Homo sapiens: one gene and its partners. The protein of the gene in region 1 purifies or fractionates together with the protein of each later gene. This does not show direct contact. Each region holds a gene or a part of one and is shown on either strand. Other genes may lie near its edges.

The links. The genes of interacting proteins can lie anywhere in the genome.
Region 2: the proteins of CFAP298 (region 1) and RNASE7 purify together in Homo sapiens (affinity purification with mass spectrometry; 3 studies listed by BioGRID and IntAct, with this or other methods). This does not show direct contact.
Region 3: the proteins of CFAP298 (region 1) and POF1B purify together in Homo sapiens (affinity purification with mass spectrometry; 3 studies listed by BioGRID and IntAct, with this or other methods). This does not show direct contact.

What each region holds. Positions count from the first base shown.
Region 1 is NC_000021.9:32,609,370-32,616,336, reverse strand, and holds the start of CFAP298 (cilia- and flagella-associated protein 298), read left to right. Parts: upstream 1-3,959; 5' UTR 3,960-4,093; coding exon 4,094-4,232; intron 4,233-6,331; coding exon 6,332-6,499; intron 6,500-6,967. Other genes in the region: CFAP298-TCP10L (uncharacterized protein LOC110091775), read left to right, coding at 4,094-4,232, 6,332-6,499. UniProt on the Homo sapiens protein: Plays a role in motile cilium function, possibly by acting on outer dynein arm assembly. Seems to be important for initiation rather than maintenance of cilium motility.
Region 2 is NC_000014.9:21,037,358-21,044,747, reverse strand, and holds RNASE7 (ribonuclease 7 precursor), read right to left. Parts: upstream 2,387-7,390; 5' UTR 2,306-2,386; intron 1,796-2,305; 5' UTR 1,756-1,795; coding exon 1,285-1,755; 3' UTR 515-1,284; downstream 1-514. UniProt on the Homo sapiens protein: Exhibits a potent RNase activity.
Region 3 is NC_000023.11:85,376,652-85,384,108, forward strand, and holds the start of POF1B (protein POF1B), read right to left. Parts: upstream 3,015-7,457; 5' UTR 2,988-3,014; intron 2,845-2,987; 5' UTR 2,804-2,844; coding exon 2,522-2,803; intron 1-2,521. UniProt on the Homo sapiens protein: Plays a key role in the organization of epithelial monolayers by regulating the actin cytoskeleton. May be involved in ovary development.

The sequences.
Region 1 (6,967 bases):
TGCTTTGGGTTTCTTGTTGCTTAGTTCTAGCTGTTCTTTATACATGATGGATATCAGCCTCTTTTCAGATATATGATTTGCAAATATTTTTCCGAATCCATGGGTTATCTTTTCACTCAGTTCACAGTGTTTTTTGATGCACAAAAGTGTCTGTCATTTAGATGTAATCCAAGGAATCTAATTTTCTTTCGTTGCCTATGCTTTTGGTGTCATATCCCAGAAAGCATTGCCCAATCTGATGTCATGAAAGTGTGGCCAATGTTTTCTTTGAGGCATATTATACTTTTAGCACTTGGGGTTAGGTCTTTGATCCAGTTTGTGTTAATTTTTGCACCTGGTGTGACATAGGGTCCACCTTCATTCTTCTGCATGTGGAAATCAAGTTTCTCCAACACCATTTCTTGAAAAGGCTGCTTTTCCACCAATGAGCTTTCTTAGCACTCATGTTAAAAATCATTTGAACACATAGGTGAGAAGTTATTTCTGGGCTCAAAAACAAACAAACCACAACAAACAACAGATAAGGATACAGCATGGGCCGGGCGTGGTCGCTCACGCCTGTAATCCCAGCACTTTGGGAGGCCAAGGCGGGCGGATCACCTGAAGTCAGGAGATCAAGACCAGCCTGACCGACAGGGAGAAACCCCCGTCTCTACTAAAAATACAACATTAGCTGGGCATGCTGGCGCATGCCTGTAATCCCAGCTACTCAGGAGGTGGAGGCAGGAGAATCACTTGAACCCAGGAGGCAGAGGTTGTGGTGAGCCAAGATTGCACTGTTACACTCCAGTCTGGGCAAGAAGAGCAAAACTCCATCTCAAAACAAAAAACAAAAAACCAGCATGATTTCAAGAGCAGAAGACAAGAGCTTAAAAACCAGCATAATGAGAAAGTTAGGAAGCTTCTTACCAAAGCATCTGGAAATATGCAAGAAATTCTTGTGAACTAAAATTTTCATACTGTACTATCAAACACTAGAACTCACTTACTCCATCTTTCTGTATTTTGGGACCCAATTATCCACTTCTCCTCATTCCCCATCCACCCCTTTTCTTCCTAGCGTCTGCTAACCCCCTTTATACTCTCCACCTTCCTGAGATTCCTTTTGTTTGTAGGTGTGTGATGGAGTCTCTTTCCATTGCCCAGATTGGAGCATACAGGCACAGTCCAGGCTCACTGCAACCTCCACCTCCCGAGTTCAAGCGCTTCTTGGGCCTCAGCCTTCCGAGTAGCTGAGACTACAGGCACGCATCACCACGCCTGGCTAATTGTTTGTGTTTTTAGTAGAGACGGGGTTTCACCATGTTAGCCAGGCAGCTCTCAAACTCCTGGCCTCAAGTAATCCGTGCAACTCGGCCTCCCAAAGTGCTGGGATTACAGGCCTGAGCCACCTGGCCAAGATTTTCTTTTTTGTTCCTACGTATAAGTGAGGACATGTAATATTTGTCATTCTGTGCCTGGCTTATTTCACTTAACATACAGACCTGCAATCTCATCCATTTTTTCTGCAGCGGAGAGGATTTTATTCCTTTTTAGGCTGAATAATACTTCATTGTGTGTGTATACCGCAGTTTCTTAATTGAAACAAATTTCTAAAAAGCAAATATTTAAAAAATGTTTCGGAATGTGAAACTTTAGGGATATTGTGCCCATTTTATTCTTTTCTATTTCCCATTTTATGTATATGCAAGTGTATAATAAAGCAGCAATCAATGTGTGTATAAATCTGTAACTTCAACAAATGTAAAATGAAAATGCTAAGTGGTGGCTGGGCGCGATCGCTCACGCCTGTAATCTCAGCACTTTGGGAGGCTGAATCAGGCGGATCACCTGAGGTCGGGAGTTCAAGACCAGCCTGACCAATATGGAGAAACACTGTCTCTACTAAAAATACAAAAAAAAAAAAAAAAAAAAAAAATTGCCGGGCATGGTAGCGCATGCCTGTAATCCCAGCTACTTGGAAGGCTGAAACAGGAGAATCGCTTGAATACGGGAGGCAGAGGCTGCAGTGAGCCGAGATCATGCCATTACACTCCAGCCTGGGCAGCAAGAGTGAAACTCTGTTAAAAAAAAAAAAAAAAAAAAAAGAAAAGAAAAAAAGAGAAAATATTACTTCCATTATCGCAGGGGGTGCTCACCCCTGATGATATTGTTTTCTAATATCCAGGGAAGGAGAGTATGATATTACTCCCAATATCGCAGGGGGTGTACACTTTTTTGTGATATTGTGTCTAATATCCGGGGAAACAGAGGATGATATTACTCCCAATATCGCAGAGGGTGGACACCCCCCTGGGATATTGTTCCTAGTATCCCAACGGGGAGAGGATGATATTACTCCCCATATCGAAGGAAATGTACACCACCCCTGTGATATTGTTCCTGATATCCAGAGAGGAAAAGAATGATATTACTCCCAACAGCGAAGGAAATGTATACCCGCGCTGTGATATTTTTCCCAGTATCCGGGGGGGAGAGGATCATATTACTTCCAATATCGCAGGGTGTGTACACCCCCTCTGTTATCTTGTTGCTAACATCCAGGTTTGGGGAGGAAAACATTACTCCCAATATCACAGGGGGAGTACACCCCTCCGTGACCTTGTTAGTAATTTCCTGGGTGGAGAGGATGACATTACTCTCAATATCGCAGGGGTGTACACCCCACTGTGATATTTTTCTAAATATTCAGGGCGGGAGACGATAATATTACTCCCAATATCGCAGAAGGTGTACATTCCCTGACCATCAAACATAAGAAGTCCATCAACCTGTTTAGTTTTCTTTAGATCTGTATTTGAATTTGTGTTGTCCGTTTGTTTATTTATTATTTTTGAGACACAGTCTCACTCTGTCGCCAAGGCTGGAGGGTAGTGGCGCGATCTAGGCTCACTGCAACCTCCGCCTCCCGGGTTCAAGCAATTCTCCCACCTCAGGCTCCCTAGTAGCTGGAATTACTGGCACGCGCCACTACGTTCGGCTAATTTTTGTATTTTTAGTAGAGAAGGGGTTTCACCATGTTGGCCAGGCTGCTTTCGAACTCCTGACCTCAGGTGATCCGCCCTCCTCGGCCTCCCTAAGTGTTGGGATTACACGCGTGAGCCACCGCTCCTGGCCTGTCCATTTATTTTTGTTTTCTTTTTGTCACACTAAAATATAAGCTCCATGAGAGCAGTGACTCTGGATCTGTGGGGCCCGGAATAAACAGCGACTGACGCCGACTGCCTTCAGCAAGAGTCCGCTGGAGGATGGCTGGATATTTCTGGGAGGGTCGCTCTGGCAGGGGCCGCTGGAGCTACCCCAGCAACGCCATCCAAATCAACCTGAACGAAGAAGTGCGGACACTCGCCCTGGCCCCTCCGTCCTGAAAAGCTGACCCGCGCAAACAGCAGCGAACAGCAAGACTCAGTTCTGGGTCGCTGCCGCCGAACTTTCCCAGGCCGGAAACAGCGTGGAAACGTTGCCGGAAGTGGAGACTGAAAGCGGCGGAAGGGACGCTGGAATGTGGAGCGGTTGTGGGGCGGCAGCTGCGGAACTGCGCGATTGTGGTTCCCGCCGTATTTCCCGTTCCCCATCTAGTAACTCCCATCTCAGCCCACGTATCTCCCTGAGTGGAAATCTCGGGCCCCAGACCAGTCGATTGGGAGGTCCGCCCTCCCCTTCAGCGACTTGGTCTGTGTTTTGGCAGTTGCCGCGACAACAGTCACTTCCGGGAAGGGGCTCTGCGAATCTCCTTCCGTCGGTCCGCTCAGAATCAGCTGTCCTCTCAGACTGTGTGGGTGGTTTCCCCGGCCGCAGCTCCGTACGGGCTTGGATTGCTGGGCCTCGGTGCACCCCAGCCTCCCCCACTCGGGTTCTGAGCTTGAGCTGGCGGCTCTTTAACTCTGCTTCACTGTTGCTCTTGGCAACATCCACTTCCGGGAGCGAGTGCCGTTTCCCCCGCTCACCGCGGGCTAGGGAGCGTGGGATTCCGGACTGTGAGCGGCTGTTAGTGCGTCGCAGCTGCTGGCGATCCGGCGACCCTCGGCCGGCAGGACCCGCGGGCCACGCAGCCGGGGCCTTCTCAACGCCTCAGTACCTCGGCGGGACCGCCATGGTTCTGCTGCACGTGAAGCGGGGCGACGAGAGCCAGTTCCTGCTGCAGGCGCCTGGGAGTACCGAGCTGGAGGAGCTCACGGTGCAGGTGGCCCGGGTCTATAATGGGCGGCTCAAGGTGCAGCGCCTCTGCTCAGGTGCGGCTCGCGGGTGGGCCCATCCCGGACAGATCGAGAGACCGGCGTGGGATGGAGAAAGAGGGGCAGGGTGGGCCGAGGGGTCAGGTTTGTGAAGATTATTGAAGAGATTTGCAGCAGCCGGGGTTGAAACGGGACACTAGGGTTAACCGGAGATGAATAAGGAACCGGAGAAGATCCGGCCTGTCTGACACCCCGGGCTGGGAGGTGGGCCCAGGTGCCTCTCGGAGCCAGGATTTGGGGTGCTGCGAATAAGTGGAAATGGGCTGGGGAGGGAGGAGGGAGCCGAAAGGCCGGGCTGAACAGCAGACTTAGTGCAATTAATCACGTGTGAGGGGTGAGATGAGAACTAGGTGGGCTTTTAAAAGCTGAATTTACTATTTTTAGTCGCCCAATGTAAAGCAGCGAGCCACCTGGCTTTGGGACGGCCCCTTACAGTTGAGGAAGCCTTGGTGATCTTTCCCCGCCCTGGAAACGGCCTGTTGCGTTGCGGCGCCGTCTCCCTACCCCGCGCAGGTTCCAGGGCACCCGCTTTGCCGCAGAACTTTCCGGCGGTGGAAGGGCCCCCATCTGTGCTGTCCATTGGGCAGCTGCCGGCCACTTGTGGCCGTAGAGCATTTGGAATGTGGCTAGTGCGGCCAGGCAACCGAATTTTACATTTGCATTTTAATTAATTAAATATATATAAATATAAATAAATACCATATATATAGTATATATGAATATAAATAAATTATATATATGTATATATAAATATAAATAAATTATATATATATATATATATATGGTATGTGTGTGTGTGAGAGACAGGGTCTTACTGTTGCCCAGGCTGGAGTGCAGTGGCGCGATCTCTGCTCACTGCAACCTTCGCCTCCCGGGTTCAAGCTATTCTCCTGCCTCAGCCTCCCAAGTATCTGAGATTACAGGCGCCCACCACCACGCCCAGCTAATATTTGTATCTTTAGTGGACACGGGGTTTCATCATGTTGGCCAGGCTGGTCTCGAACGCCTGACCTCAGGTGATCCGCCTGCCTCCGCCTCCCAAAGTGCTAGGATTACAAGTGTGATCCATCGCGTCTGGGTCATTTTAATTTAAATAAATTTAAATCGCCAAGTGGAGCGAGTAGCTGCCGCATTAGACAGCATAGTTTTTGAACTTGACGGGATGATACTTCCTGATGTGGTCTAGGATATTACTGTTTATATAACTATCGTGTATATATAGAATATACAAACGTAACTATTTGCAATAAATAGTATATTCATTTATGTGATTTATTAAATTGCATGAATATGTGATTTATTATGAAATGTATTGATTACATTATATGAATATGTGAGTTTTGCACCGTGGAGAAATTCCTGAGGGTCATGGTTCTTTTCATGAAACTTATGTGTAGTTTCTTAATTGAGGTTCCAACACAAACTCAATATTAAATGTTATTTTTAAGTTAAAGCATTTGAGGAGAAAAGGAATTCATCTTCTTTTCCTATAACGTTATAAATTGGAAATGTGCTGAATGCTAAGAGTCACATTAGTGAACTGAAAATTCATGTATTTATTCTGCACCAGTGCTCAGCCTTCAGAAGACAAGGATGGGGCCGGGCGTGGTGGCTCACACGGGTAATCCTGACACTTTGAGAGGCTGAGGCGGGCGGATCACTTGAGCCTAGGAGTTCTAGACTAGCCTGGGCAACATGGTGAAACCCAGTCTCTACTAAAAATACAAAACGTGGTGACACATGCCTGTTGTCCCAGCTACTCGGGAGGCTGAGGCGTGAGAATCGCTTGAACCCGGGAGGCAATGCTGCAGTGAGCTGAGATCGCTGCAGTGAGCTGAGATCGCGCCACTGCACTCCTGCCTGGGTGACAGAGGGAGACCCTGTCTCAAAGAAAAAAAAGACAAGGATGAATAAGACCAGTACCATGCCCCCGTGTCAAAGGCCCAGGCCAGGTCTGGCACATAGCAAGTGGCATATAAATGTTTGTTCCATAAAATAGTGAGCCAGATGGGCAAGACCCCTGACTCTTTGGAGCTTACATTCCAATGGGGTATGAGGTGTTATGATTGTGATACTGTCTTTCACTTATTTTTAAGAAATGGAAGAATTAGCCGAACATGGCATATTTCTCCCTCCTAATATGCAAGGACTGACCGATGATCAGATTGAAGAATTGAAATTGAAGGATGAATGGGGTGAAAAATGCGTACCCAGCGGAGGTGCAGTGTTTAAAAAGGATGATATTGGACGAAGGAATGGGCAAGGTAAGTGAGGATTTCTCTTCTATGTGCATGCTTGATACAGGCATAAGTATGAAAACAGTTCCTTTTTTTTTTTTTGAGACGGATTCTTGCTCTAGCCCAGGCTGGAGTGCAGTGGCACAATCTCAGCTCACTGCCACCTCTGTCTTCCAGGTTCAAGCGATTCTCCTGCCTCCGCCTCTTGAGTAGCTGGGACTACAGGCATGTGCCACCACACCTGACTAATTTTTGTATTTTTAGTAGAGACGGGGTTTTGCCATGTTGGCCAGGCTGGTCTCGAACTCGTGACCTCAGATGATCTGCCGGTCTCGGCCTCCCAAAGTGCTGGGATTACAGGTGTGAGAAAGCAGTTCTTTACGTTTAAAAATTGACCTCGTCATTTCTCTACAGACTTACAAAATACTGTACTCTGTAGCTCCTTTGGTAAAACTCTAATCTAGGATGAATTAGGTAGATAAAGGAAGCTTTTGT
Region 2 (7,390 bases), on another chromosome or scaffold:
GGGACTGAGATAAAGGAAGAAAGAAGGGGATGGTGCTGGTCAAGCAATGTTGGAGAGACCATCAGGACTGGCCAATACCAAGCCATACCTTCTCCAGCTCCAGTCCCCAGAACGAGAGAAATGGTATCTGTAGCCCAGGGGGACAGGGAAATGGCATTTTCGCATCTCAACCCCTCAGGCCTGGGCAGACTGCCAGAGTGGAGAGCCAGGGTAGCAATGAGGCAGGGGAGATCATTATCAGGAGGAAGGAAGCTCTGGCAGCTCCCACCAGCCTGTTTGTGACAAGCAGGCTCAGGGCCACGGAAGTCCCTTAAGGTCAAAGGAAATGTGATCCTGGATCTGGGGGATGAAGCTCAGACACTCCCTTTACCTTATGTCTTCAGGCCAAGGGGATCTGGCCAGAGCCAGGTCCAGGGCCTAGGTTGGAAGAGCAGTGGTCTAGAGAAACGGGAGGGGCAGTTAGAGAGGAAGAGAGAGAAGGAATAAAATGCCAGAGCACCTCATAAACAATCTCTTGGCTAGAGAGGTAATGACCTTTATTGCAGCCAACACAGGGTAACTGGCTCTTCAGAGCACTCGTTTCTTCATGAGTGAACTCTTACCTAGTTCACCGCTTGCCTCTGTAACAGTGACTTCTTTCTTGCGCAACTGGTAGAGTAGAAGGTACACTGTATTTAGAGCAAGGAGACCTAGGTTCAAGTCCAGGTTCTGCTACTAACTAATTAGACAAGCTCTTTAATTCATTAAGCTTTCTAAAACCTTAATTTCCTCATCCATAAAGAAGGCATACAATCCCTGTCAAGTCTATGTCACAAGGGATTAGAGGATTCTATACAAATATGAAGTGGTATTTATTTATATTTTTCTTTCCTTCAGGTCACCTCACTGCCACGTCAGAGCTGGGGAAGACTTCTAGTTCAGGAACAGAAACAGCTGTGTCCACAAATCCCATATGCCCCCTTTCCATTTATTTCCTCTCCTTGTCATGCTGCCCTAATGCCAGGGGGCAGGGGAGACATGTGCAATGGCATAGACCAGGGAACCCACAGACCTGAGCTTGCTGTTTCTTGGGGATAAGCATCTGGGAAAACAGCAACAAAAAGATGAAAAGCCATCCCTCTAGAGCTCAGCTCACCAGAGTGTCAGCTTCAGCCTCCCAGCAGAGGCTGAACCAGGAACAGCCCCAAGAGATGAGGGGAAGAGAATGCTCTGGGTGTAGGGGAGTGGTGCGGAGTCCTGGAGAGGGAATTGAAGGTCAGCCAAAGAGCAAGCCAGTCTGGAAACCTAAAGGACTCTGTCCAAGTGTACAGGAACCAGGTGGAATTGCTGAGAGTCCTTTTTCTGGGGAGGCTTACAGGCCACTACGTAAGACTTGTTCTGTCGCTTCTCTTTGTACCTGCAGTTCGGATGCTTCCCTGAGGTGAGCTTACACATGGTCAGGGACACGGCCCCGTGGCTCTGGTGGCAGTTTTTATCGCCATTCTTGCAGGCTATTTTGGGGGTCTGGCAGGTGGCGGCCACACTGGAGAAAGGCTCGTGCAGGAAGGTGTTGAGGTCTTTGCACCGTTTTGTGTGCTTGTTAATGTTTTTCATGGCTGAGTTGCATGCTTGAGGGCTGGGCTGCATGTGCTGAATTTTAAACCACTGTGATGAGGTCATGCCCTTGGGCTTGGCACTGACTGGGATCTCTGCCACCCACAGCCCCAGCAGCAGAAGCAGCAGAAGGGGGCAGAATCCTGCTCTGGCCGGTGCCATCTCTCTTAGGAGGAGCAGTCAGGATGGAGGGCAGGGGTCGCTGGGACAGAGGTGTTCAGTTGAGAAATTAGTCCTCTTATACCTGCTCATATGAGCTAGTCACCCATCTCCCTACTCGGTTGTCTCCTTTCCTCACTTTGTGTCTCATCTCTGCCTCTTCTTCTGTGTGTCCACATCCACTGCAGCCCCAACAACAACCCTGTGGCCCCATCTCTCATCTTGTATTTCTGTTCCCTTCATTCTGTCCCTGTTGCCTGTCACTCTTTGTCCTCTCCCCTTTCCCTTAAGTCTCATCCCTTTTGTGTCTCCATGTTCCTGTGTCTGTGTCTCATCCTCTCCCGATTCCCATCTCGTCTGTGTTCCCATTCTTTTTCATTTTTTGCCTCCATCCCCAACATCACTCTCCCCTTTCCCCAATGCGTGTCCTCATCTCCCCTAAATCCAGTCCCTCCTTTATCCATTTTATCGCTCACCTGAGTGTACTCTCAGGATCAGAACCCATCCCTCCTTCTCTGTCCTCACTCCTCCCCAGATCCTGCCACAGCCTCACCTTTGCGCTTGGTCTTCGTGCTGTGACTCCTGCTCAGTGGGCTGAGGTGGTGTCCACGCACTCCTAGGCTGTCAGATCTCTGAGGGCCTCTTCTCACTCCTGAACTCCTTAAGAGCTGGCCCGGGCTACGCTGTGTCTGTTTGGGGGTGGGCTGGGAGCATCACTGGATCAGGAAATGAATCAGGTTCATGCCTCTCCACTTACATGTCCCAAATACGTGGACACCTAAGGATGCCTGTACCTGCCTAAACATGTTCAGCAATGAGGAAGCTTGAATCGTCACATTCGAAGACTGTATTTGTTCCCTGGCCACATGATTTTAATGACTCTTTAATAGAGCACCTGACCCAGGTGTCAACTGAAATCAATTTCAGGAAGAGTTGTCATTCATATCCTCTCATATACACTTCTGGCCCTTGATCCTGGGAAGAGTCAATCACTGTGGTGTTAAGGGTTGCTTCTTCTCTGACCTGAGGCACAGATAGGACAGCCTAGAAAGATGCTTTGTCTGGTTCCTTGTCATCTGGAGATACTGGTTATCTTTCGGAGGAGATGGAACAGACACGAGGGAAGTGGGTGAATGAATCATCACTGTCACGAGGCCTGGCACCATCCCCAATAGCGAAGCCATTCCACAATGATTCACAGGCCTCTCCAGTTCCAGGTACCAACCAAGGCCACATGGCTTTAGCTGGAGAAGGCAGCCAACACCTCTCAATTTCACTTGTTCCCTCCCTTTTTTATTGAAAATTGCAAAAATTTAATACTGCCCAAATGTTTGTGTTTAAAATGCTGTTGCTGCTCTCGACATCCTGCCTTAGTGCTTCCTTCACCTTGTATGTCCTGTTCCTTGTGGTGGTTACAGCTGTGTGGAGCATCTGGGTCAGTGCTACTCCAAGCTCTTGTGAGCTTGGAATATGACACTCAGGAGAACCGAGACACCAAGGCAGAGAAGCATCACCCTCTGTGGGTGAGAAGGCCTGTAAAACTGAGATGAGGAATATTTTTGTTTTCAGAATTTACCTGTAAGTAGTAGGCAATCTCAGAATCTTGGGCATGCTTCATTCATGTGGTCAACAAACATTTATCGAGCATCTACTAAGTGTCAAGATACTTGGGATATATCACTGAACAAAAAAGGCAAAAATGGCCAGGTACGGTGGCCCACACCTGTAATCCTAGCACTTTGGGAGGCCATGGCAGGAGGATTGCCTAAGGCCACGAATTCAAGACCAGCCTGGGCAATGTGGCGAAACCCTGTCTCTATAAAAAATTTGAAAAATTAGCCAGGCATGGTGGTGCATGCCTGTGGTCCCAGCTACTCCAGAGGCTGAGGAGGGAGGATTGCTTGAGCTTGAGAGATAAAATCTGCAGTGAAAATCATGATTGCACCACTGCACTCCAGCCTGGGTCACAGAGTGAGACCCTGTCTCAAAAAACAAACAAACAAACAAACAAACAACAACAAAAAACAAAGACAAAAGTCCCTGCCTTTGTAGAGCTTACATTCCATTGGAGAAAGACAGTAAAAAAAAATACGTATACTTTGCTCAAAGTGATAATGGCTAGGGAAAAAAGTAGAACAGTATAGGGGTTGGTGGTCAGTAATTTTACGTAACATCGTTGAAATCGCTGACTCTGGGGCAGAGACTTGAAGATAAGAGTGAACTTGTGATTATCCGGAGGAAGAATGTTCCAAGTGAAGAGACTAGCACTGCAAAAGCCCCAGAGCAGACAGATGCCTGAGGTGTTGGAGGAACAGCAGTGTGTCCAGTGTGGCTGGAGCAGGTAACTGAGAGTTCAGAGAGGGACCAGAGACCAGGTCATTGGGAAGACTTACGGACCATTTGAAGGCCTGTGGCTTTTACTCCAAGCACAGTAGGGAACCCTGGAAGGGTTCTAAGTAGATGAATAAAGAACGTGTCAGCTTAAAGGATTACCTGGCTGTTGTGTGGATTATAACTGTGGAGAAGTCGCACAACCCATCCTGATCATAAAGTTTGTGTTCTGGTCCAGAATTTATGATTCTAAGTCAGGAGGATGGGGAGTTTGTTTTGAGGCCAGGAGGACATTATTTTAGTAGCTGGACAGCACAGCTGTGGGTTGGGGGTCAGGATGAAGGATCTTTAGAAGCAAAAGTGGTGCTGGAGATGAGAAATGCCACTAGATGGCAAAAGAGAATCAAGAACAAGTTCACACAGGCCTCTGGCTCTTCTGGTTTGTCCTCAGCGAGGCCTTGGTTGGGGGAGCAGCTGTTCACTTCTTTGTTAAGGTATCCCAAACTTTGCAGGCTGAACTTCTGGATAGAAGTTCTGGATAGAGAATTATGCCCCTGCTGCCGTAGAAACATGAATGTTAGGAGATAAAATCCACGGTTTAAACCAGGCTGTGTATCAAATGTGTATCAGCACAGGCCAGTCTAGCCTTTGGAGTGGAGGCTGGATGGAAGGCTGCAAGCTCATTTGAATGCCTAGCTTGGTCTCCTTTCTACTTCTCATTATCCTAGAGTGGGATGTTTTCAAGCCATGATTTAAATTTCCCTCTACACTTGTGTTTTCCTGATATTATAATTATCCTAGTTTGCTCTTCAACTCGAGTATGCTGGGCTGCGTAGAAGGCTGCCTTAGGACTGTGTGAAAGTGAAATAAACATGGCCCTGCTGCTTCAGTCCAAAGGGAAAAGAGAGTAAGGTTTTAAGTTTGCACATGAAAATCGAAATTGAGTCGTACCTACCATACGTGCAATTCAACTGAAATCTTTGTTTTGCCTCAATTATTTGGATAAGGGAGGTGATTTTGTTTGTGTGCCCAAATTATCCAGCTTCCAAGATCTGCTTCACCTTGTACTTGGTAGGCTGATTTTGCTATTTTGGCTTCACTGCATTCATGGGGCAACAGAAAAAGATGGAGGAAGGGGGACAAGTTTAGGAAGAACAAAAAGATTCAGGCATCAGGCCAGGGACTGGTTCAGGAGTTTCACAGGAGGAGAAGAAAGACTCTGAGAGAGAGAGCAAGAGCAGAAGACAAAACAGTGGGAGAGAAGACAGAAGGGAAGAAAAAGTCCCTTACACCAGCAATCTCTACCCCTGCTTCCTTCTCATTCTATCGTCGAAGTCACTTCTGTTGGCCCAGCTTCTCCTTAGGCTGTTGTGTGTGTGTTTAAGTTGGGGCGGGTGTTGTGAAAATCCCAACAGTGCCAGGTGGACCTCTGCCTGTCTTCCCCACAGGACAACAGCTGCTGCTTCCTCTCGCCTGTGCTGGGAGGGAGTGAAGGGGGAAGGGAGAGAGGAGGGCCGGGCCTGGATTGGTGCCTACCCTTCAGAGCCAAGCCTCTCTGCCTTCCGGAGTTCCACACAGCCTCTGGATACCAATGGAAAGCCCGTGAGAGTTCCCTTCCAAGCAAAAGCAGATCCAAGTTCTGTTATCCTAATTTTGTTGGTCCTTTGATAAATAAAGGTAATGGGCTCATTTTTGTAGACTGAGAAAGTGAAACATACAGCAAGTTGAGGTCAGATGTGGGACTTTCTTCAGGTCCTTGAATTCCCATGACCTTTCCTGGAACAGCTGTGGGTCAGGAGGAGGCAGCACTGACAGAAATTTGGAATCCTTGGCTCCCAGACCAATGCGTTTAGACAAGCCAGGATGGAGGAAAGAGGAAACTGATTTGGGGGTTCACTGGGGCCTTGTCTCACAAGCCCTCCCAGCTCCCCATTTATCTACAGAGCAAAGTATCATTTCCTTAGCCTGGTAATCAGGGTCTGTCACAATCGGGCAAACCTGTCTTTCTAACTTTATCTCTGATTTTTCTCCCACTGAGTGCCTCAACCCCAGCCAGACCGGTTTCCCCCCATTTTTCAAGCATGTCTTTCATAATCCTCTTTATCTCCACTGAACTTCTAACTTCACCATGAGATCCATTTCCAAGCCAGGGTGACCCTTCAGGAAAACTTTCTCTGACCCTCCCAATTCAGAGACATCTTTCTCACCTCTAAATTCCTACAGCATTTACTGTCTTCAGAATGTATAATTTTCTGCCTTGAATCACTGGTTATTTCTTCATGTGTATGTATTATTTTTCTCTTAGACTGTCAATTCCCACAAGATGAGGACCACCCGTTACATTTCTTTTGCACATTTCACAGTATATAGCATAATGCCTTGCATATAAGTGACCCTAACTGATTCAACTTTTAGAAGGCATTCCGTCTGCTCCTGAATGATCCCAGTCTGAGGTGGGATTGCCTCCAGCCCACAGAGATGGTTAACAGATGAGGAAGTGACAATGCGGCTTCTAGACTTCAGCCCTGGGTTTGAGGTGATGCTATGAGAAGAAGGTTGAGATGGCTGAGGCAATCCTTCAGGTTCAAGGACAGCCCAGGAACTGTCCATGACACAGTATATTGTTTGAGCAACTTGAATTGGACAGGGCAAAAGATAATGCCAATGAGATCATGGTGAGCCCACTCAGAGCAAAATTTTGGGGTTCTCCTCAGTCATAGGGAGTCACCCTTGCACCTGCCACCCTAGCCAGTTGTTCTATAAATGCTTACCATTGGGGAGGGAAGGGAGAGAATGTGTAAATGATTACATGCAGAGGGTCATCTTTACAGGAAAAACAACTCAGTTATTGTTTCAATGGTGAACTATCAATACACATTTTTCTGGTAGAATCAGCACCATTACAATCAACATTTGTTTAACAAAAATATTTTGATGTCCCAGATGTTTATCATTTTTTTAATACATAAGATACAAGTAAGTCTGCTTTGGTTAAGAAATTTGATTAGCTAATTATTTAGACCAGGGCTTCACAACCTCAGTGTTATTTACATCTTGGTCTGGATAATTCTTTGTTATGGGAGCTGTCCTGTGAAATGTGGGATGTTCAGCAATATCCCTGGCCACAGGCCAGTAGCAACTCCTGGTTGTGACAACCAAAAATGTCTCCAGACATTATCCAATTGTCCCTGGAACTACTGAATTAGACATATGACCTTGAGCAAGCCACTGTCACTCTAGAACTTAGTTTTTCATCCCTAGGGAAATGCTTGTGTATGTAAAACCCGGTGTAATGGGGTAACAATCC
Region 3 (7,457 bases), on another chromosome or scaffold:
GATAAATTTAAAATATGTTTATATCCATAAACACCATTTTAGTGCACAAGAGGTTAAGAGAATAAAAGCATGTACTCAAAAGCTAGAAATGGAAAATAAAGTGCTACAGAAAACATTTGATTAAATCGAAAATGCCTACTACATGACCTAAAATTATGATTCAGGAAGCAAAGCAGAGTAGCATCAATTTTGGTTTCTCAAAGGCAACATATTTTACTACTGGTAATATTTATTTTAAAATCTCATTAATTCCCTGAATGTCTTCCAAAAACCAAAAGGCAAAAAACAAAACAAAACAAAACAAAAACAAAGACAAAGTAAAAGTTTAACTGAATTCATGATGATCAACCATTGATTGTAAAATCAATTTTTCTTGCTGCCATGGTCACAAACTCTGGTATTAGGCTAATTGCTACACATCAACTCATCTGAAACGTGGTTTATTAAGGATAGACTTTATTGAAACATAAAGTGAATTAAGGGTTTTTGAGTAATATGTACTGCTTGCTCATGCCTGTCATGGTACATTATACATACCATCACATTATACTCATTTCGTTAGCATAAAGGTAATTTCAGATCAAATCTAGGTCCTACTTTACATGATGCCACAATGCCATTCCATCAATAAACAGGGAGAAAGGAAAATAAAATAGAAGAGTTTCCTCATCATATTCTTTGTGACAGCTATCTAAAAGCTGTCTTGCCAAGTTCTCTTTTAGTGGATTTGTGAATGCCCTTTGATATCCAACTCAGTTTGAAAATTTATAGTCAAATATTCTTTCTTCTTGTTTCACTAAGGAATTAATACTTCTTTTTTTCCCTTTACCACATAGCTTAACTTTCACTTTTCTCATTTTCTAACAGCACTTACTTTTCTTCCTTTTCAATAATAAATAACTTCAGACTTCACAGAGCCCTCCATTCTAATCTTTTATCCCAGTTTCTGCAGCTGCACTTTCTAGCCCTAAGTTGTTTATAAACTCCTGTGTGGCGAGCTACATTTTAGGAAGGAGATAGTCCATTTTTAAGGATCACTTTGGCAAATGCCAGGTAAAATAAGGAAAATCTTGTAAAAAGCTCAACCAACTTGATCCTGAGTTATTGAAAGGGGAAGCTGAACCAAGGAGTAAATAATAAAACATACTCCTAAAAATTGTCCGGTAGCCAATATTTATAATTTGTCAAATTTCAGCTTTTAAATATCTATTTATGTTTCTTTTACTAGCAAGTTGACAAAAAAGGGGTCTAAATATGTTTAAATAGCTATGGCAGATAGGATGATTTTAGGATTCCTAAGATAATAGTAATTGTTTTTAATCTGCACATCATTGTTTTTGAGCTACAATAAAACAAAGGTGGCATTCATTTTGTTCTGCATTAGCATCTCAATATGAATATTGGAGTGCACATTTGCATTATTTTTATCACTAATGCAAACTGGTATTTATGACCTTTATATTTTTCTTCTCCTTGACCTCAGTATAAGTGGAGTTTTTCTCAACCAGTTGAGAAATGTTACTTTATATTCTACTCAAATTTGTGGGTTTTGGAAAAATAATATGTATTACTCCTGATTGGTAATAATAATGTAACATAGCATCATATCCCAATGACTGCTTTTTGAGATTTTTGTATCTTAAAAACATAATTTCAGTTTGGACAGAATTTTCCAGAAAGCTTAAAACATGCAAATTTAATGTAAAAGGAGTCAGAGGATAAAATACACATAAAGCTGTTAATTTTATACAGTCTTGCAGGGTTACCTTGTATTTATTGGGAAGGTTATTAACACAGGTATTGGTGCTAAGAATAACTCTTAAGAAACAAACGTATTTCATTTTATGGGATGTCTTAGAGTTCCATCTTTTGTAGCTTTCATGTAACAATTGCTTACATCTTGCCTTCCTCAATCCTATATCAACTCTTCCAGTACTCTTTCTACAAGTATTCCATAAATTATTCACCTAGGCTGTACGATAAAAAGTGTGTCATTCTTGGAAGATGAAACACATATGACAATTCAGACATCTGCACCTCTCACTTATCCTGGAGCAGCTATACTATTTGCTGAGCACAAATAATTGCTTATCACTCAGACATGCCACAGTACCTGTATCACCATATTTGATACCAAAAAAAACCTGTTTGCTTCTGATATGAAATTAATCAGTAGGAACTTGTTCTAATAAAAATCTACTGTACTCAAGTTGAGAACTGCTTTGCAGTAGGGGCAAAGGGATTCCTTGGATCAGATCTTTCAGTCAGATCAAACAGAAAATGAGCCTTCCTATACTATGGTTAGATTATGAAAATCAGTGAAACCCGGAAACAAACAACCACAGACACTAGTAAGTGAAATAACAGCCAAGAGATGAATTTGGGTGACTATCCAAGGCATATATAACTGCAATCCACCAAAAGATATCCTGTGGAATAGAGGCAAAGAAGCAGAAAGGAAGAGAAATCAGGTTGAAGATTGCCTTTCTCCACTAGTCTGGCATAGCTTTCTTTGTTGTACCTGAGAATGGTCGCTCCAAACCAAATTTTGGTAGGAGGAGGTGGTTTTGAGAGGGGAGAGCACTTCCCGTGAGTTGAAGGGGTCCAAGGCCTGCACCACCTTGTTCATGGGCCCACTGTAGGTCCTCACTCGCTCATACACTACATTTTTTTCTGGAGGCTGCTGGGCTTGGCTTGACTGATGGTAGCAGTGGTAATGCTGGGGCTGGCACTGCAGCACCTCTGGGAGCTGCTGGGTTCCACAGCTGCTGCTGCTCGTCTCACTCCAATAGCTCGAGCTCATCTTCTTCCAGTGGTCAGCAAGGGACCTCCCAGATGTTCTACCTAAGGAACAAACAGAGAAATATAATGGAAAAAAAAGACAGGCAAGCAGGCAGTCAGGCAGGCAGACAGACACACGACACACGTGTGGAAACCGCTTATCAAAACCTCTGCCAATAGTGGTGCCGGGAAGAGAAGAAAGCTACCTGAGCAGCAGCAAGAGCAGGTCTGGCAGCTACAGAGGAAGCAGCAAAATATTTGAGCTCAAATGGAAAATGGAGCCACCCTGTGACATTGCTCCAGGAAATGGTACTGACACGCCCTTAGGGGCGGATTCACTTAGCAGGTTTACATGCCAGGAGAGGCCCTGCCTTGCCACGGAGATAGCTACAAGGCTGCCCAGCAGGTAAAGGAGTCTGTGAAGAGCAGAAATGTAGAATGTCAGGGATGAAGCCAGAGTTTCCAAGCACATGGGCTTAAAAATTCACAAAGACATGAAAATGCAAAAAACTTGCTAGAGAAAAAAAGTCACACATGTTATATGAAAGTGTCTTTTTATGGTTCTTAAGTTTAGCAAAGGTAGTTACCAGCATAAGTATTATTATTCCAGATTCCCAGACTAAAATAATGAGTATTAGTCTAGGAATACACCAATTTTCACAGATAAATTTGCATTCTTTGCAAAACCCATCTGATAATTGCAGTTAAGGAAGATTACTAAGGGGTCTCTTTCTAGTGACTCTGTCTAATATATGGACTTGTTTATCTTACTCAAAGCCTCGTATTCTTTTCTATCATTTGTTGAAGGAAATTTGTCTAAATGATTGAATTGCTGTATAGAAAGGTGGATGGTCAAGAAAAACCTAAAGATTCCACAAATGCTTTGCATTTTGGCATTCACATTTGTTGTTTTTCATTTATGCAAGGGAATTTCTCCTGCCCTTATATGTGCCCTAGGAAACACTGAGTTTGATTGACTTTTTAATATCTAGTTATTAAGGGAGCTGCAAGTCCTGAAAGATGCCTTAACTGACATAATGAGATTTAAATGTGTTTACAACTTACATTTATTACTACTTGAAATTTTGATCATAATGCCTACTTACCCTCAGATTTTGCTATGCAATATACTTCAGCACCACTTAAATCCAGAATACTCTCATTCAAAGTGACTTTAGTAAAAAGTATCTTCCTAATGTGTATATGTGCAATAGGACCTAGTATACTACCACCATTCTAGAGAGGAAGAGAATGTTATCCAGGGGGCTAGCAGCATTTTTTTTCTGCCCAGTGAACAAAGTGTTATGATTTACTATTCACTCTGTGTCAGGTACTGTTCAAGGGGTTTTATGTGGATTATAATTATTTCATCATTGAAGTGACTTTATGAGGTTTATAGGTGAGAAACTGAGGCACAGACATGGAGAGTTTGAAAAACTTTCCAAAGTTAAATAACCTGTAAATGGTGGGCCTGGCATTTTAACATATGGAGATTCATATTAGAGTCTAAGCTCTTATCTGGTATATTATACAGCTAGATAAATTCTCAAATTGTTCCATTTTACAGCTACATAAATTCTCATATTGTTCTGTATCCTGCCATCTAATAAATCTTCTAGATGTCAACATCAAAAAACACTTCAGAAATGCTAGCCATGAGAGACTTTAAAGGAATCTTTAGATTTTCTTTTATGGCTGAGGAGTGTGCAAAAAGCTGAAAATTACCCTTAAAAACTTTTAAGTTAGTTATTACATATTTACATTTATATTTGTGTGTTGAGTGCAGACCTGTCAAATCTGATCCTTGCTCATTTTAATGATATTCCTCAAGAATCAATTAAAATTTTATTAGAAATATGTGACATGTTAAACAGCCTGGTAAAATATCAGATCAATAACTTACTAATATCATTAGCAGTATCACTTTGAATAAACTTTATGTGTGAACAGAGAATAGGGGTTAAGTGGGATCATCCAGTCAGCTTTGATTCATGATAAAAATATAAATTAAACACACACACACACACACACAAACACACATTCATGTGAGCACACAGAATACTGTAAATATCTGCTGCAGCCAAGAAGTGACCTATTAAATAAAGCAAGAGATTGAGATGAAGAAAAAAATTTCCTTTATCCATAAACTGGTGACCATACCTGCCCTTCACATATCTTGGATATATAGTGTTTTGAGCCAACTTCCTTGATACAGTTTGGCTACAATTTGTGTGTAAAGCTGATACCTTCACCCAATATCTGAGCCTCATTCATCACTGTTCTCCATCTCTGGGTATGAGGGACAGAGAGCTTGAAGCTTAGGCATAGTATATTAGAAATGAGATTAAGCACTATCTGGCACGCAAATCACATCTAACTATGAAGCAGGTGTTGACCACAATTGTTCATTTCGGAAAGGCTTATTAATCATTGTCACCAAAATTTCTACTTCTCTGACAACTCACTTGTGCATCACATGATCGGTTTCTCTAATTGGTTTTTCTCCTTTATGAGGATGATGTTCATACTAACACATTTTTGATTAAGAAATAAATATAAATATGTCTTTATGGTAGTAATAACACTTGCCCTATTTTACACTTGAAAATCCAAGGGATTGACATTCTGTATTCTGCATCCTTCATGATTATACCACCCTTCTAACATTAGTGAATGGAGTAGTAAGAGTTGATTCCTTATTCTTAACTCCAGATTTTTTCAGGTAATCTTTAATTAAATTTCCAACAGTTCTTTTGTTTCACACAGTAATGGAGATATTTTATGCTTACCACTGAAAAAGCCTCATTTACAATGACAGATTTGGGGGACACAATTGGTAACCCTTTACAAGTTAATTCAGTTCTAACAGACTTAAGAAGATCTTTATTGCTTTTGATTACAAAAATAATTCATTTTTAAAATTTCAAATGAGTAAATACATGAACAAAGTAGAAAATTAAACTCATCATACTGATAATAGGAGTAAGGGATAGAGCAAGGAACAGAAATGTCTGCTGCACACTTTAATGGTAATTTTTAAAAAAACAATGATTTACATTTTGACTGAGTTGTCTTGAAGGTCATCCGAAAAAGTCCTGATTTGACCTACTGAGGTTGTTGGAAAAACACAGTTGCTTCTATACTCTCACAATACAGAACACTTCTGTGACCCCAGATGTGTGAGGGTTATTTCCCTACCCAACTAGTAAGTGATCAGTTCTACAGTGGACACCAGCTGTGTGTCCTCTAATTCAATCCTGACACTATCTACTTGGAGATAGCATTAAAACTCACAGGTTGAGGACTTTCAGTCCCACAAGACTGTCCCCATTCAGACACCAGTCGCAAGCCCCAGATCATTGTACCTGTGCTCCTGACCAACCAGCTATCAATCAGAGTTCATATGACCCCCCTCCTTGGATTTAATTAATTTGCCAGAGCGCTCACAGAACTCAGGGAAATACATACTTACATTTACTGGTTTATCATAAAGGATATTATAAACGATTCAAATGAACACCAAATGGAACAGATGCATAGGGCAAGGCACAGAGCCTCCATGTCCTCTCGTTATGCTCCATTCTCTAAGAACCTCCACATGTTCAGCCATCAGGAAGCTCTCTTTGAATCTAGTTATTTTGGAGTTTACATAAGCTTCATTATGTAGGCATGATTGATTAAATCATTAGTCATAGGCTATCAATTTCAACTTCTCTCCCCTAAAGAAAGGTGGGGCTTAAAGTCCCAACCCTCTAATCCTGCCTTGGTCTTTCCAGTGACCAGCTCCCCTCCTGAAGCTACCTAGGGGATGCCAACCCTCAGTCAATTCATTTGCATATGAAAATATATTTATCACTTTAGAAATTTCAAATATTTTAAGCGTTGTATGCCAGAAAACAGGGAAGAAGACCAAATATCTATTTCACAATATCACACCTACTTCATAAAATTGTTATTAGAATCAAATGTGAAAGTGTTTGCTGATTTTAATATAGTACCCAGGCATATGATTTTAAAATATGTTATTCACAGATAATGTGTTATAATTTTTGTCAAATAGTAGGCTTTGAAAAGAAAATATGAATGCCAGAGGAGGCTATAGGCCTGGTTTATAAAAAGCTTAGCTACCTGAAACTGTTAAGGTAAAACAAATAGGTAATTAATTTATCAAAAATGATATATATATATATATAACTATCTTAAACATTAAATCATAAAGGTAATTATAAACTTATCATCAAATATATTTCATCAGCATCAGTAGTTTTCATGTGTATAACTAATCCTGCACTCCACCTTCTATTTTATGGGGATGATGCTCAAGTCTATCTCTAGCCCAGCCTCACCCCCGGGGCTAATGATACAATGGCAAAAGATAGTTAAAGCAAAGTTACTCAAGTCTTTTTACTTCTGCGTTCTCTATGATCAAGGAGAAGTATGTACACACTGGAAAGGATCAATAACCATTGGTCCATTCAGAGGAAACTGAAGCCCCAAAGTAGATGAGATGACTGTATGAAATCACTTACGTTTTACTAAATGAGTCCAATTCATTTGATTCTGCAGAACTACATTCCAGCCTTCTGACAAAGTTGAGCTTGTTTAACTGCTGTTGAGAAACTTTAGACTGGGAAGTGTTTCAGATTATAATATATGAAAAAACATCTGTCTTGATT